Linked DNA regions of Homo sapiens. The protein of the gene in region 1 purifies or fractionates together with the protein of each later gene. This does not show direct contact. Each region holds a gene or a part of one and is shown in the gene's direction. Other genes may lie near its edges.

Region 1 (3,500 bases):
TGGGTTAATTAATGATTAAGAAATCACCCAGAAAGCAATACAGAAGGAGCAGAGTTAGAAACGATGACTTAATGATAGTTGAGGAGGTCCAGCAAACATCTGATGGCAGAAAGAAATAATAGAGAATGGGAAAGAGGCAATAATTGAGTTAATTATTAAGAATAGGCATGAATTCATAGGTTCAAGAAGTATAATACTTAAGGAGGATAAACCAAATAAATCCATATCTCTGTACATGATAATAAAGTCACCAGAGAGAAAAAACAGACAACCTACAAAGGAGCAAAGTTAAACTAACAGTTGACTTCAAGAACAACAAAAATCAGAAGACAGTGGGATGAGTGCTTGAAAATGTCTTTCACATTCTCTATTATTTCTTTCTGCCATTAGATGTTTGCTGGACCTCCTCAACTATCATTAACTCATCGTTTCCAACTCTTGCTCCTTCTGTATTGCTTTCTGGGTGATTTCTTAATCATTAATCCAGTAATTCTTACTTTCCCTATGTCCAGACTGCTGTTAAACCTGCTCGTTTTGTAAATTCAATGACTATATTTTCTCATTTCTAGAAGTATTACTTGCTTTTTCAACATTTCAACTAAAAAATTCTGTAACAAGTTAAACAGTTGTGGTTGAGTGATTGACTAAAACTATGAGAAATTATCAACAGTCCCCAGTAAAAAAGCTGTCTTAAGGAAACTGAACCCAGAAAGGAGTAAATTGCAGAAAGGATTACTGTGTAGACACTTTGGTAAACATGAAGAAATCTGAATAAATCTTATCAAGAATTCACTGTTATAAAATAGTAATAATTATTATTTAGGGTTATTTTAAAAGGTAAACTTGATAAAAGTGACATGTAAGACAAGAAGGGGTGGTCAGAATTAAAGAATGTTATGGTTTAAGTCAAACATGCTTGTAAAGTATGTGAAAGAAATGGAATATGTAATTTTTAAATAAATTGAGGGGTAAAAGTAAATACAGAAAATTTAAGCAAGTAAATTAGAAGGTAGGAGAGGAGGAAAAAAGCACAGAAAACACAACAGAAAGTACAAAACAGTATGGTTAAATTCAAATATAAATGGAAATGGACTTTCTGGCTCAAAGACAGAAATTGGTGTTATATTTTAAAGATCTATCGGCCAGGCGCGGTGGCTCATACCTGTAATCCCAGCACTTTGGGAGGCCAAGGCGGGCGGATCATGAGGTCAGGAGATAGAGACCATCGTGGCTAACACGGTGAAACCCCGTCTCTACTAAAAATACAAAAAATTAGCCAAGTGTGGTGGCAGGCGCCTGTAGTCTCAGCTACTTGGGAGGCTGAGGCAGGAGAATGGCGTGAACCTGGGAGGCGGAGCTTGCAGTGAGTCGAGATCGCACCACTGCACTCCAGCCTGGGCGACAGAGCGAGACTCCGTCTCAAAAAAAAAAAAAAAAAAAAGATCCATCTATATGTTTATAAGAAATATACCTTAAAAATAAAGATATGGAAAGGTTGAAACTGAAAGAACTTTTAAAAGACGTAATTTTTAAAAGGCATAGTTATATTGATATCAGGCAGAAAAGGCTTAAAAGCAGAAAGCATTATTAAAAATAAAGGCAATCATTGCATAAAGATAAAAGGAAAAAATAGAAATATACACATTTTAAACTTTATTTTCTAAGAATGTGTTCTCAAAAATTTGACAAAATTAGAATGAGAAGTTGACCCAGGGTCAGTTTTCACCATCCACCACCACCCAGAAAACCTACCATCTAGTAGGATTTTGACAGACCTTTCTCAGAATTTAATAAATTTGGTGGAAAAAACTTAGTGTAATACATTTAGAATTTAACAAAATAATTAACAGGCTTGGTCTTACAGAAACCACAAGTTTTTGTAAATTATGTGTGAATAGCAAAAGCAAAAATACTTACAACTCCTTTAAACACACTTCTAAATAACCCTTGAATCAAAGAAGTCATAATGGAAATTGGAAAATGTAGAGCTAAATAATAATGAAAACACTACATGTTCAGACTTTTGAGATCTAACTCAGTAGAACACAGAAGAGAAATGTATAGCCTTAAGTGTTTACACTTTCAAAAAGAATGAAATCTAAAAACCAAGCTAATAAGAGTCTGACACTGAGAGTCATTCAGAAGAAAAGTAAACTCATAGAAGTAGAAAGTAAAATAAGATTAGAAATCAGTAAAATAGACAACAAACAATAGAGAAGATAACAAAATCAAAAGAGAAGATCAATAAAAACAAAAACCAGGAAAAATAGATAAAATTCTAACATGATTGATTCCTGCCAAATCTGTGAGAGTGAATCAACCCAGTAGAAAAATGTACAAATGAATAGTCAGATTCAGAAGTAGAAACCTTAATAAACCTCTGAGAAGACGGGGAACTTCACTAGTAACTGGAAGTACAGTTAAAAACTACAGCAAGCAGTTTCCAGCTAAGAGATTCAGTAATTTAAAAATACCCAGATTTTATAAGAATTATGGATAAAAATAATTTGCCAGTGCTGCTGGTAGGAGTCTGATGGCACAGTCACTCTATCTGAATGTTAAAGATGTCTGTGCCCCACTAGTAGGTGTGTTGATCAGAATAGTGTTTTTAAAAACTAAGTTTGAGAATCATTGGTGGTTTGTAAAGTCAATTTAGTAATTTCAACTAGCATTTTTTAAATGAAATAGGAAATATACTTTTGTGAAGCATTAGCTTTACTTATATATATCTGTACATATACTTGCATATATGTGTGTACTGGGTTGCAGTGTAAAATGAATTTCTTATTGTGGGTTGCAGTGGAAGTTTGAAGGCCCAGTGCCTAAAGAAATCAGTTCATCTACAAGGAGACAGGTGCAAGAATGTTCATTTAACATTGTCAGAGCAAAGAGTGGGAAGACAAATATCTCTGTGTAGGACATGGATAACTTGGGGCATGTTCATAAAATGGAATATAGTATCTGTAGCATTAGAAAATGAATGGATATTGGGATAGTTTTCTTAAAAGAGCCCATTTTCCTAGTTTTACTCTAGAAGATGTCTTCTGATCCTGAGACCTCATTTCTTTGCTTGACCCTGTATCAAAATTTTATTTCTAAAAACAAATTCAAGAAAGATGCATTTTAAAAATCAACCATGCTACCATGGTAACAATTTAAATAAGAGCTAAAGGTTAAACCCTTGAAATCGTATTATGGTCTGATTATTAGTTTTGGTTTAATTCTGGTTTAAAGAAAAAATAATTCGTGGATAGGGACTTAATGTAAAAGTTTATTTGCTGGTAAAATTCAAATGCTATAAAATACCCTGGCTGCCCTCTTTGAATAGCAACATATTTATATATTATAGTGTGTAATTAAAGTATATAATATTATATGTAGTAAATACTATGTAATATTTAGTATTAGACTATCCCCTTTATTTATTGTCCTTTTTGAATTTAGTTTTGACGGTTTTACTTCCTTAAAAGTCTGGAGTTCCCACGTAATCAAAACTGTAA
Region 2 (3,500 bases), on another chromosome or scaffold:
GTATTTTGCTTTATCCCCTCTACACTGCATTGCTGTAGTGGGCACTCAGAGTGTGAATGTTGGTAGTGGATTTTTACTTTTTGTTGGCAAATTGCGCTGATCTGATTCCAGCTATGGAAAACATTAAAAAAAAAATTCAACATTGTCTTTACACTCACAGGAAATCCTAGGTAACTATTGTCATTAATTTTTAGATGACAAAAAGGAACTTGGAGCAGCCAGAAGAAGTCAGTATTACATGAAATATGGGAATCCAAATTATGGAGGCATGAAAGGAATTCTTAGCAATTCATGGTGAGTCCAAAACCTTCAAATGCAATAGTATTTGAGTTTTTCTTAATCCTTCAGTTGGTATTCCGTGGTGAAATGTCTAAACCCTGTGTAAACTGGAAGGAAAACAAGAGGGAAGAATTCAAGATTCTTAGATGTGGTAAATGATGGGGAATGCTGAATTGTAGTTACATTTAAAATATCTGTGTTAGTACCTAACATTGTGTCAACGTGTAGTTGAAATGAATTAGCGAGCCCAGACATGGTGGCTCACGCCTGTAATCCCAGCACTTTGGGAGGCCGAGGCCAGCAGATCACCTGAGGTCAGGAGTTCGAGACCAGCCTGGCCAACATGGTGAAACCCCGTCTCTACTAAAAATACAAAAATTAGCCATGCATGGTGGTGGGCGCCTGTAATCCCACCTACTCGGGAGGCTGAGGCAGGAGAATTGCTTGAACCCAAGAGGCAAAGGTTGCAGTGAGCTGAGATGGTGCCATTGCACTTCAGCCTGGGAGAGAGATTGAGACTCCATCACAAAAAAAAAAGAAAAGAGAAAGAAATAGTGGATTTCAAGGTCCTTCCTATCAGTTTTTGATTGTGTGCTTATTTTGGCATTCTTGCAGGAAGCGAAGATATCATTCCCGTCGTATTCAGCGGGACGTGATCAAGAAGAGAGCCCTGATTGGGGATGACGTTGGCTTGACGTCGTATAAACATCGACATTCTGGTAGTTGCCTGCTCAGCTCTTGGGTAGACACATGTTTGGCTCCTGAAATCATATTTTTATTCTTAATGCAATCTTTTAAGGTTCCAAACTTTATCATCCTCTCTTCCTTGCCCTCACCCTCTGCCAACATATAGGAAAGTAAGTCAAGTCACAATTAATTTTAAGTTGCCCAAAGAGGTCAAATGATTTTATAAAAGCTGTTCTATCAAAAAAGGCAAAATATGACATAGGAAAAATTAAAACAAAACTTTCCTTAGGATCCTAATTTTTCTACTATTAATATCAACAGCTGCATGAAAACAATTTTTTTTTTTTTTTTAAGACGGAGTCTCGCTCTGTCTCTCAGGCTGGAGTGCAATTGCTTGATCTCGGCTCACTGCAACTCTGCCTCCTGGATTCAAGCAATTCTCCTGCCTTAGCCTCCCGAGTAGCTGGGACTACAGGCATGCGCCACCATGCCCAGCTAACTTTTGTATTTTTAGTAGAGATGGGGTTTCACCATGTTGGCCAGGCTGGTCTCGAACTCCTGACCTTGTGTTCCACCCACTTTGGCCTCCCAGAGTGCTGGGATTACAGGTGTGAGCTACCGCGCCTAGCCAAAAACAATTTTTGAAATTATTTTATCAGATGAACTGATTGTATTGTTCTTTTTCTGTATTAAAAATAGGCTGCTGTGTTGAGTGCTTTGTGCTTGTTGGTTTGTGCATGTGAATGCCTCAGAAGAGTGGGATATCATGACTTGGGTTTCTTTCTCCTTTTTTTGGTGCTTATTGTAAAAGAACCATTTTATTTATGTTTTATAAAGAATTGTTCTTGTTTTGAGCCTAATCTATGGAATCTTCTACATGCCTAATAGAACTAGTCAAGTCAGCATACAAAATAACATATACACACATTTATCATTGTAATGGGGACAGAAAGGGATGAAGTCTAGATGTTTTATTTAATGTGTATATACAAAATTGTATATTTGAGATCTACATGTTAATAATACACATAGGATGGGAACAGTGGCTCACACCTATAATCCCAGCACTTTGGGAGGCCAAGGCAGGAGGATCACTTGAAACCAGGAGTTTGAGACCAGCCTGGGCAACATAGTGAGACCTTGTCGTTACAAAAAATTAAAAAATTAGCCAGACCAGGCATGATGGCACATACCTGTGGTCCCAGCTACTTGGGAGGCTGAGATTGCCTGAGCCTGGAAGGTCAAGGCTGCAGTGAGCCAAGATTGTGCCACTGTATTCCAACCTGGGCGACAGAGCAAGACTTTGTCTCAAAATAATAATAATAATACACATACTTTACTGTTACACAGTTACACTTTTCCAATTTGAGTTACTTTAAAATATTTTCATCATATACTTTTTATATCCATATTAAGGAAATTAAAAAGCAAATTGCCCCTATTTCTAGTACCCTGTATGATGACTGAGTTCATCTTACATTTTTCCCATTTGTTTTCATAATAAATAGTATAACTCTTGGGAACATGTACTTTATATTCTACTTCTTTCGTTTATTGTATTTTTCCATTTTCATTATTCATGGTGCTTATGTTCTATAAAGTCACTGTGAACACTGAAGTAGCAAATACTGAATCGTACATAGCCTCTGGCCACATCATTTTTGTCAGTTGATCAATATGTAACCTTGTTTTACATATGTTTCTCTCTTTTTTTTTTTTTTGAGACAGAGTCTTGCTCTGTTGCCCAGGCTGGAGTGCAGTGGCGCGATCTCGGCTCACTGCAACCTCCGCCTCCCGGGTTCACGCCATTCTCCTACCTCAGCCTCCCGAGTAGCTGGGACTACAAGCGCACACCACCATGCCCGGCTAATTTTTGTTGTATTTTTTAGTAGAGACAGGGTATTAGCATGTTAGCCAGGATGGTCTCGATTTCCTGACCTCGTGATCTGCCCACCTCGGCCTCCCAAAGTGCTGGGATTACAGGCGTGAGCCACCGCGCTGGGCCCATATGTTTCTCTTTAAGACACCTTATTTAAGACACATTGTTGATTCGTTAACATTGAGTTCACAGCCAGTAGCCCTATAACTCATGCCTGAATGCCTTACCTGATATGGTATTTTTCCACAAGGCACATCACAGCCCCCTTGCATCTAGGAACACTAGGCAGCACTTCGGCACGACACTCAGGGCCATTTTAAGCAGTGAAATCACTAGCAGCAGGCACAGAAGTGTGAAAAATGTGCCACTCGGTGGACTGAAACAGACGCTTGTTTACAGCATGAGATGAAACAGGAAGGTGGAGTGTTGCTTTGTTTGACCTCCACTGGGAGTGTGTGTGCCTGGTGACTCAGATTTTTTTGCCACTCTGTGCGTGCCAGCAAATGACCATGGAAGCATTGCACGTATTCATTTTGGAGTTACAAATAAATTTGGTAAATTTGCAAATACAAAATCTGTGAATAATAAAGGTCAGTTGTATTTTAAATGACTTTATGGTATTTGGTTAGGCTGCTGCATCATACTTTACCTAGCC
Region 3 (3,500 bases), on another chromosome or scaffold:
CAACAGAGTGAGACTCCGTCTCAAAAAAAAAAAAAAAAATTAACACAGAAATGTATTTTTCTCTTCTGCAAAAATCTAGAGGTAAGTGGTCCAAGGTATCCAGTCCCAGGTACCTTTTCTTTTTGTTCTTCTCTGTGTGCCCAACATTCTCAAGGTTACCTCAAGGCCAAGACAGATGCTCAATCTCCAGCCATCCTGTCTGCAACCTACACAGCACAGCAGGAAAGATAAAAGGAGAAGGTCAGGCCGGGCGCAGGGGCTCACGCCTGTAATCCCAGCACTTTGGGAGTCCGAGGCGGGCGGATCATGAGGTCAGGAGTTCAAGACCAGCCTGGCCAACATGGTGAAATCCCATCTCTATTAAAAATACAAAAAATTAGCCAGGCATGGTGGTGTGCACCTATAATCCTAGCTACTCAGGAGGCTGAGGCAGGAGAATCGCTTGAACCCGGGAGGCATAGGTTGCAGTGAGCCAAGATCACGCCATTGCACTCCAGCCTGGGCAACAGAGCAAGACTGTCTTGAGAAAAAAAAAAAAGAGAGAGAAAAGCATACCCTCTTCCTTTAAGGGTACTTCACAGATGTTGCGCACACACTTCCTTTCACATTCCATTGGTCAGAAGTTGGAATATATGGACACAGCAAGCTGTAAAGAAAGCTTATAGCCCTGTGTCCAGCTTAGAATTGGGAGATTCATGATTAAATACAAAGGGAAGAATGGATATTGGGATAAAACTAGCAATTTTTGCCACAGGGATGGATCTAGGTTTATCCCCAGCTCTCAAACCCAGGGCACCATTTCCCCAAAATCCCCACATATTGCAATATGACTGACCAAGATTAGGAATCCAATATGAGGATTCCTTATATTGGAACATATGAAATATTGGAACTATGGAACATAATCAAATTAACTTTTAAGTAATAGAGAATATGGTTTGCAGGGCCAGGCACAGTGGCTCACACCTGTAATCCCAACACTTCAGGAGGCCAAGGCAGGAGGATCACTTGAGATCAGGAGTTTGAGACCAGCCTGGGCAGAAGGTCTCTACAAAATTTTTTTTAAAAAATTAGCCACGTGTGGTGGTGCACGTCTGTAGGCCCAGCTACTTGGGAGGCTAAGGTGGGAGGAATGCTTGAGCCCAGGAGGTTGAGATTACAGTGAGCCATGACTGCACCACTGCACGCCAGCCTGGGTGAAAGAGCAAGATCCTGTCTCAAAAAAAGAAAAAGAATAGGTTTGTGTTGTATTAGCAAGAACCACATTGTGTTTCAAAATAGTGGGGGTGGGTGCCTGGTTTGGGTGGAGTAATAGTGGGAGCCACTTTGGTGCAGAGTGGGTTTTGGTTAGAATTAAGATTCTGATGGAGGGCCCCCAAGACCAGCATGTTGTCACTAGCTCCATCTTCTGGCCTGAAATAGGAGCAGTCTTCACTGCTGGGGGTAAAGAATGGCATCAGTGTGACAGTGATACAAACATTCCTTGGAGTCCAGACCAGAGCCCACTCTAGTGTGCTGCAGCAGCTGAGTGAACTCATTTAGGAAAATACATAAGGATAGATCTTATTCTCCAATGCCCTTGTACAACCATACAACACCAGCTCAGGCCTGTCACTCAAGGTTTGACTTTATGATTTTCCTGATGAAGACTGTTTCATGGCCACAAGTATAGAGGGTTGGAATTTTTCTGTCAAATCTAAACAAATCCAGCCAGCCGGGCATGGTGGCTTACACCTGTAGTCCCAGCACTTTCAAGGCCAAGGCAGGTGGATCACTTGAGGTCAGGAGTTCGGGACCGGCCTCACCAACATGGTGAAACCCCATCTCTACTAAAAATACAAAAATTAGCCAGGCATGGTGGCGGGCACCTGTAATCCCAGCTACTTGGGAAGCTGAGGCAGGAGAATCACTTGAACCTGGGAGGCGGAGGTTGCAGTGAGCCGAGATCGCGCCATTGTACTCTAGCCTGGGTGACAGAGACTCCATCTCAAAAAAAATAAATAAAAATAAAAAACAAATTCACCCTTTTCACTCTGTCATTTATTTGTTTATCTCTTCATTGTCTTTGGCCCAACAAATCTATTTCTAAGAATTTATCTGGCCAGGCGCAGTGGCTCACGCCTGTAATCCCAGCACTTTGGGAGGCCAAGGGGAGCAGATAACGAGGTCAGGAGTTCGAGACCAGCCTGACCAACATGGTGGAACCTCATCTCTACTAAAAATACAAAAATTAGCCAGGCGTGGTGGCGGGCGCCTGTAACCCGGCTACTCAGGAGGCTGAGGCAGGAGAATTGCTTGAATCCACGAGGCGGAGGTTGCAGTGAGCTGAGATCAAGCCACTGTACTCCAGCCTGGGCAACAGAGCAAGACTCCATCTAAAAAAAAGAATTTATCCTATTGACCATTTTTGGTTTGGGTAAAAAAAGAAAAAAAAATAGAAATTATCCTACAGCTATACTTGCACATATGCAAAATGACAGGCACATACGGTTCATTGTAATAGCAAACACTTGGAAATGACCTAAATGTTTAACAGAGAACTAGTCAAATAACTATAGTACATTCATAGAAGTGAATATTATGCAACAGTAAAAAAGAAAGGGAAACTGTGTGGAATACATTCTGAAATATGTTGGTAAGTTTAAAAAAAATAAAACAGCAAAGAATGGGAGCCAAATTTGCCCCATTTGTATAAAAAAGGACTGGAGACTATATATACCTATTTGTTTATATTTGTATGGGATATTTCTGGAGGGAGACATGAAATGATAACATGGTTGCCTCCAAGGACAGAGAAACTGTGAGACAGGGTAAGGGGGAAAACATTATACTCTGTGCCCTTTAATACATCTATATTTTGAATCACAAAAGCAAATTTATGTATTTTTCCTCCTTTAGGAAATATATTCTTCCCTCTCTCCTGCCTTTATGAGGAAACTGATCATCAAAAGTTCCCACTCCCTACTTCTGCCACCCCACCAACGCCTTGGACTCCTCTCTTTGCTGAAGAGACCCAAGTCTCTTGACACCTCAGAGTGACTGTAAGCTACCAGTAAGACAAGTGGGAAGAGGCACGTTCATCAAACCTGTTACTAAACCAGCCTAGTCATAGCTCATCCCCATCTCTAAATGTGTCCACACAACCACATCTGCCTTTTCCACAAGCTTTTCACAAAGAAGGTGAGAGAGAAGGAAACCTTGGGAGGAGGACATTACTGGTTGTTCTGGCTGGTTTGAAAAGCACAAATAAACTTGGGATGTGGTTCCTTGCCATGTGTGATGATGTTGAGCTCCTTTTTGTAAGATGATATCAATATGTCAGCTCTGGGCATTTTTACCACCTCCCAATAAAGTGGAGATAGCATGAGAGAAAACAAAAGCCCAGAGAAAAAAGGAGACTTGGAATTGTCTTTCAGAGCAGAATCTTCTCTGGAATCCACGTCTATTGTTTATTTTTTGTCTTTTTTTTTTTTTCTGAGACAGAGTCTTGCTCTGTTGCC
Region 4 (3,500 bases), on another chromosome or scaffold:
AGCCACTGCACCTGGCCGACAGCTTCTTGAGTGTGTGTGTTGAAGGTAAATTTTTTGAGATTGAGACTCCTGAGTCTGAAGGAAATTTTAATTTTCACAACTTGATTGGTGGTTTTGTTGGGTCCAGAATTTTAGATTTGAGTTTATTTTTGTAAGATTTTTGGCGGTATTGTTGTGTTTTCTGGCATCCAGATCTGCTCTTGAGAAGTTTGAGGACATTCTGATTCCTAATCATTTTTTATGTGACCTTTTTTCATTCTAGAAGTTTTTAACAACATTTTCTCCTCTTTGTTTGACATTTCATCCCTTAAACTCAGCCATTTAGAAGGCTTCATGGCTAGGCCAGGAGGTGGAGGTTGTAGTGAGCCGAGATCGCACCACTGCACTCCAGCCTGGGCAACAGGGAAACTCTTTGTCTCACCAAAAAAAAAAAAAAAAAAAAGGGTCTAGGTTCCTGGGAAAAGAAATGAGTGTCAGTTCCTATAGATTTTAAGTCATGATGGGAACATCCAGTAGGCTGAGCTCAGCTCACTTGCCTCTTCTCGGCTACCCAAGTTTATAGAGCAAGCCTTTATAACTTCCATAATAGGAGGGGTCCTATCTCATATCAAGCAGGAATTCTATTATGATTGATTTTTAAACCCTGAATGATGAAAGTTTGTTGAAAGACAAACAAATGACCAATGAGGACTACACTTCATAAACAAAATAAAAACTTCATTTTAGGGAGAACCTCTCCTGGGGCCCGTGTAACATAGGAGATTTTTAAAACAGTGACTACAAATTATTTCTAAAGCAACATGGTGTAGGAACTCTTTCTGAAAATTTGGCTTGGCTATTCAGAACTTACTAGTTATGCTGTAAGGCTCATATGTTCACTTCGAAAGTTATTGGACATTACCTGATTTGTAGTTAATATTTAAATAAAGGATCTGGATTTCCTCATCTATAAAATAAGGAATTTTGACTATTAGTGATTTGGACTAGGAACATATTATACATGAGTGTGATATTGAGGAAAAAGAAGGTTGAGAACCTTTGGAATACAAAGGTCAGCAAACTTTTTCTGTAAAGGGTCAGATAGTAAATATTTTAGGCTTTGCAGGGCAGATGAGTTTTGTTGGAAGTGCTGAACTCCGCCGTTTACCTTGAAAGCAGCCATAGACAATATATGCCTGAATTGGAATAGCTGTGTTCCATTAAAAGCTTATTTACATACACGGGTGGTAGCTAAATTTGGGCAGAAACAGGTGGCAGGCCCTACTTGGCCCATGGGCTTTGGTTTGCTGACCCTTAGATTAGATAATTGCTAGAACCCTATCACAAGCTAATAGTCTATGTGGTATCTTATCCAAGTCGAGGATTCTGGAAAAGAAGAAGAAATAGAATGGTAAGTAAAAGTTTGTGTTAACTGTAGATGTCTGATTGCTGCATGATAGAGAATTGTAGAAATCTAGTAGATATCTTCAGTCTTGAAGGAAAATTGATCCCCCTATTAAAATAGAATGTCTTGTACAATGTTTAGGCCTTAGAAGGAGATTTTCCAGGTAAGGAGGTCATTGACCTCTTTCGTTTTGCTCAGTTAATATTTTACCCCTTGGCTTTCATGGATGTGCTGTTCTTCCTTTAAAGTTCTGGACTAATGGGGACACATTTTTTCTTCTTGGTTCTGTTTAATATGACTGCTATGAACTGGAACTTTAAAAAGTATTTGTATTCTAAAGGAAAACAGAGGGAAATGACTCAGAATATATTAAGAATATAAACAGGCTGTACAGGGTTCTTGTGTTAGCTTGCCCTGTAAGATTTTGAGTCATTATTTCACTTAGCATGATGTCTTCAAGATTCATCAGTGTCGTAGCATGTGTCAGAACTTCCTTTTTAAGGCTAAATAATATTCCATTATATATCTATACTATTTTTTTTTAAACCATATATCCTTCAATAGACACTTGAGTTGCTTCCACCTTTTGGTTATTGTAAATAATACTAATAGGAGCTTGAGTATATTAATGTGTCTTCAAGTGCCTGCTTTCAGTTCTTTTGAGTGTATACCCAGAAATGGAATTGCCACGCCAGTCCTTGGATTTAGGGGCCAGTCTTAATCCAGAATGACTTCATTTTAACTAATTACATCTGCATAGATTCTATTTCTAAATAAGGCCACATTCTGAGGTTCTGGTGGACATGCCCTTTTGGGGGATGCTGTGGTATGATAAAAAATGAATATTTTTTTCTGCCCAGGTTCCCTCGGCAGAACTTTGGAAACCCTTTGAATTTACTATCTTTTCTACACTAATGAGATGGCTTATAGCGGGGGTGGGGGCCCTAGATAGCTTTGGGGTGGGGGCTTGTCAGAAAAACTAACCCCATGTTAAGAGGGTTAGAACGTTCAGGCTCAACCCCCAGCCTCCCTCGAGGGGAGGGGCTGGAGATTGGTGGTAATCACCATTAGTCAGTGATTTAATCATCAGGTTTAGGGAGCTTCTGAGTTGGTGAGCACCTCCTCGTGCTGGGAGGGTGGTGCACCCTGACCCTTCAGACTGGCCCTGTGTACCTCTTCATCTGGCTCTTCATTTGTATCCTTTATAATAAACTGTAACAGTAAGTACGGTGTTTTCCTGAGTCCTGTGAATTGTTATAGTAATAGCAATGGGGGGAGGTGTGATAACCCCAGAATTTGTAGACTTCAGCCAGGGAGAAGTGTGAGTAGCCTGGGCACCTCATTGCAGTTGGCATCTGAAGTGGGGCAGCCTTGTGAAACTGAGCCCTTAACCTGTGGGGCCTGCCCGAACTCCAGATGATTAGTATTAGGATTGAATGGAGTTGTTGGTATTGCAGTATGATTGTGCAATTTGGTACAGTCAGCAAGTCAAACTTTTAAAAAATATTGCAAAAGATGGCTGAGTGAAGTGTAATAATACACATGCAGCATTTTAAAAACCAAACTTATTAACTTCTACCCCACCCTCAAATAAACCAGCACGTATATCCATCAATCCACAACTAATCCAGATTCAAAATACTGATGTTTTCATTGACTTCTCCTTCCTTGTTCTATTCAGTTAGTCAACATGCCTTGGAATTTCTAAATTGACAGTTTCTGGTTCATGCATTTGTCTTATTCTCCCTTCTGTTTCTTCACCGTGATGCTAACCACATTTTTTTTTCTTAATGGTTGGTTTGTAGTTACTTTGTTTTACCATTGTTTATGTTTTATCGATTAATTAGTTCTTGCTTCTTGCTACTAGATTACCTTTCCTAAACTGAGGCTGTGTTGCATATGAAGTATAGATTTCTTACGTTGCTTTTCTAGTAATGCCCCAAATCTTTACCACCTTTTCTTTCTGACTACTTCTCTCTATGAGTGTGCTTTCAACTCACCTGAACTCCTTGCTGTGCTCTAGGCTTGTGGAACTCAGCCTCTGTGCTGTTATTTCCCTGGAATGCCCATCTACTTGACAAAAATGTAGTTATTCTCAGCCTTCATCTCAGTTATT

What was found. Proteins that work in one complex are often made in the same cells at the same time.
Region 2: the proteins of THOC1 (region 1) and NCBP3 purify together in Homo sapiens (co-immunoprecipitation; 4 studies listed by BioGRID and IntAct, with this or other methods). This does not show direct contact.
Region 3: the proteins of THOC1 (region 1) and SKAP1 purify together in Homo sapiens (co-immunoprecipitation; one large-scale study listed by IntAct). This does not show direct contact.
Region 4: the proteins of THOC1 (region 1) and RBM33 purify together in Homo sapiens (affinity purification with mass spectrometry; 2 studies listed by BioGRID and IntAct, with this or other methods). This does not show direct contact.

The regions. Positions count from the first base shown.
Region 1 is NC_000018.10:219,548-223,047, reverse strand, and holds part of THOC1 (THO complex subunit 1), read left to right. Parts: intron 1-3,500. UniProt on the Homo sapiens protein: Component of the THO subcomplex of the TREX complex which is thought to couple mRNA transcription, processing and nuclear export, and which specifically associates with spliced mRNA and not with unspliced pre-mRNA.
Region 2 is NC_000017.11:3,818,747-3,822,246, reverse strand, and holds part of NCBP3 (nuclear cap-binding protein subunit 3), read left to right. Parts: intron 1-194; coding exon 195-294; intron 295-894; coding exon 895-998; intron 999-3,500. UniProt on the Homo sapiens protein: Associates with NCBP1/CBP80 to form an alternative cap-binding complex (CBC) which plays a key role in mRNA export. NCBP3 serves as adapter protein linking the capped RNAs (m7GpppG-capped RNA) to NCBP1/CBP80.
Region 3 is NC_000017.11:48,133,215-48,136,714, reverse strand, and holds the end of SKAP1 (src kinase-associated phosphoprotein 1), read left to right. Parts: intron 1-2,898; 3' UTR 2,899-3,273; downstream 3,274-3,500. UniProt on the Homo sapiens protein: Positively regulates T-cell receptor signaling by enhancing the MAP kinase pathway. Required for optimal conjugation between T-cells and antigen-presenting cells by promoting the clustering of integrin ITGAL on the surface of T-cells.
Region 4 is NC_000007.14:155,651,161-155,654,660, forward strand, and holds part of RBM33 (RNA-binding protein 33), read left to right. Parts: intron 1-3,500. UniProt on the Homo sapiens protein: RNA reader protein, which recognizes and binds specific RNAs, thereby regulating RNA metabolic processes, such as mRNA export, mRNA stability and/or translation.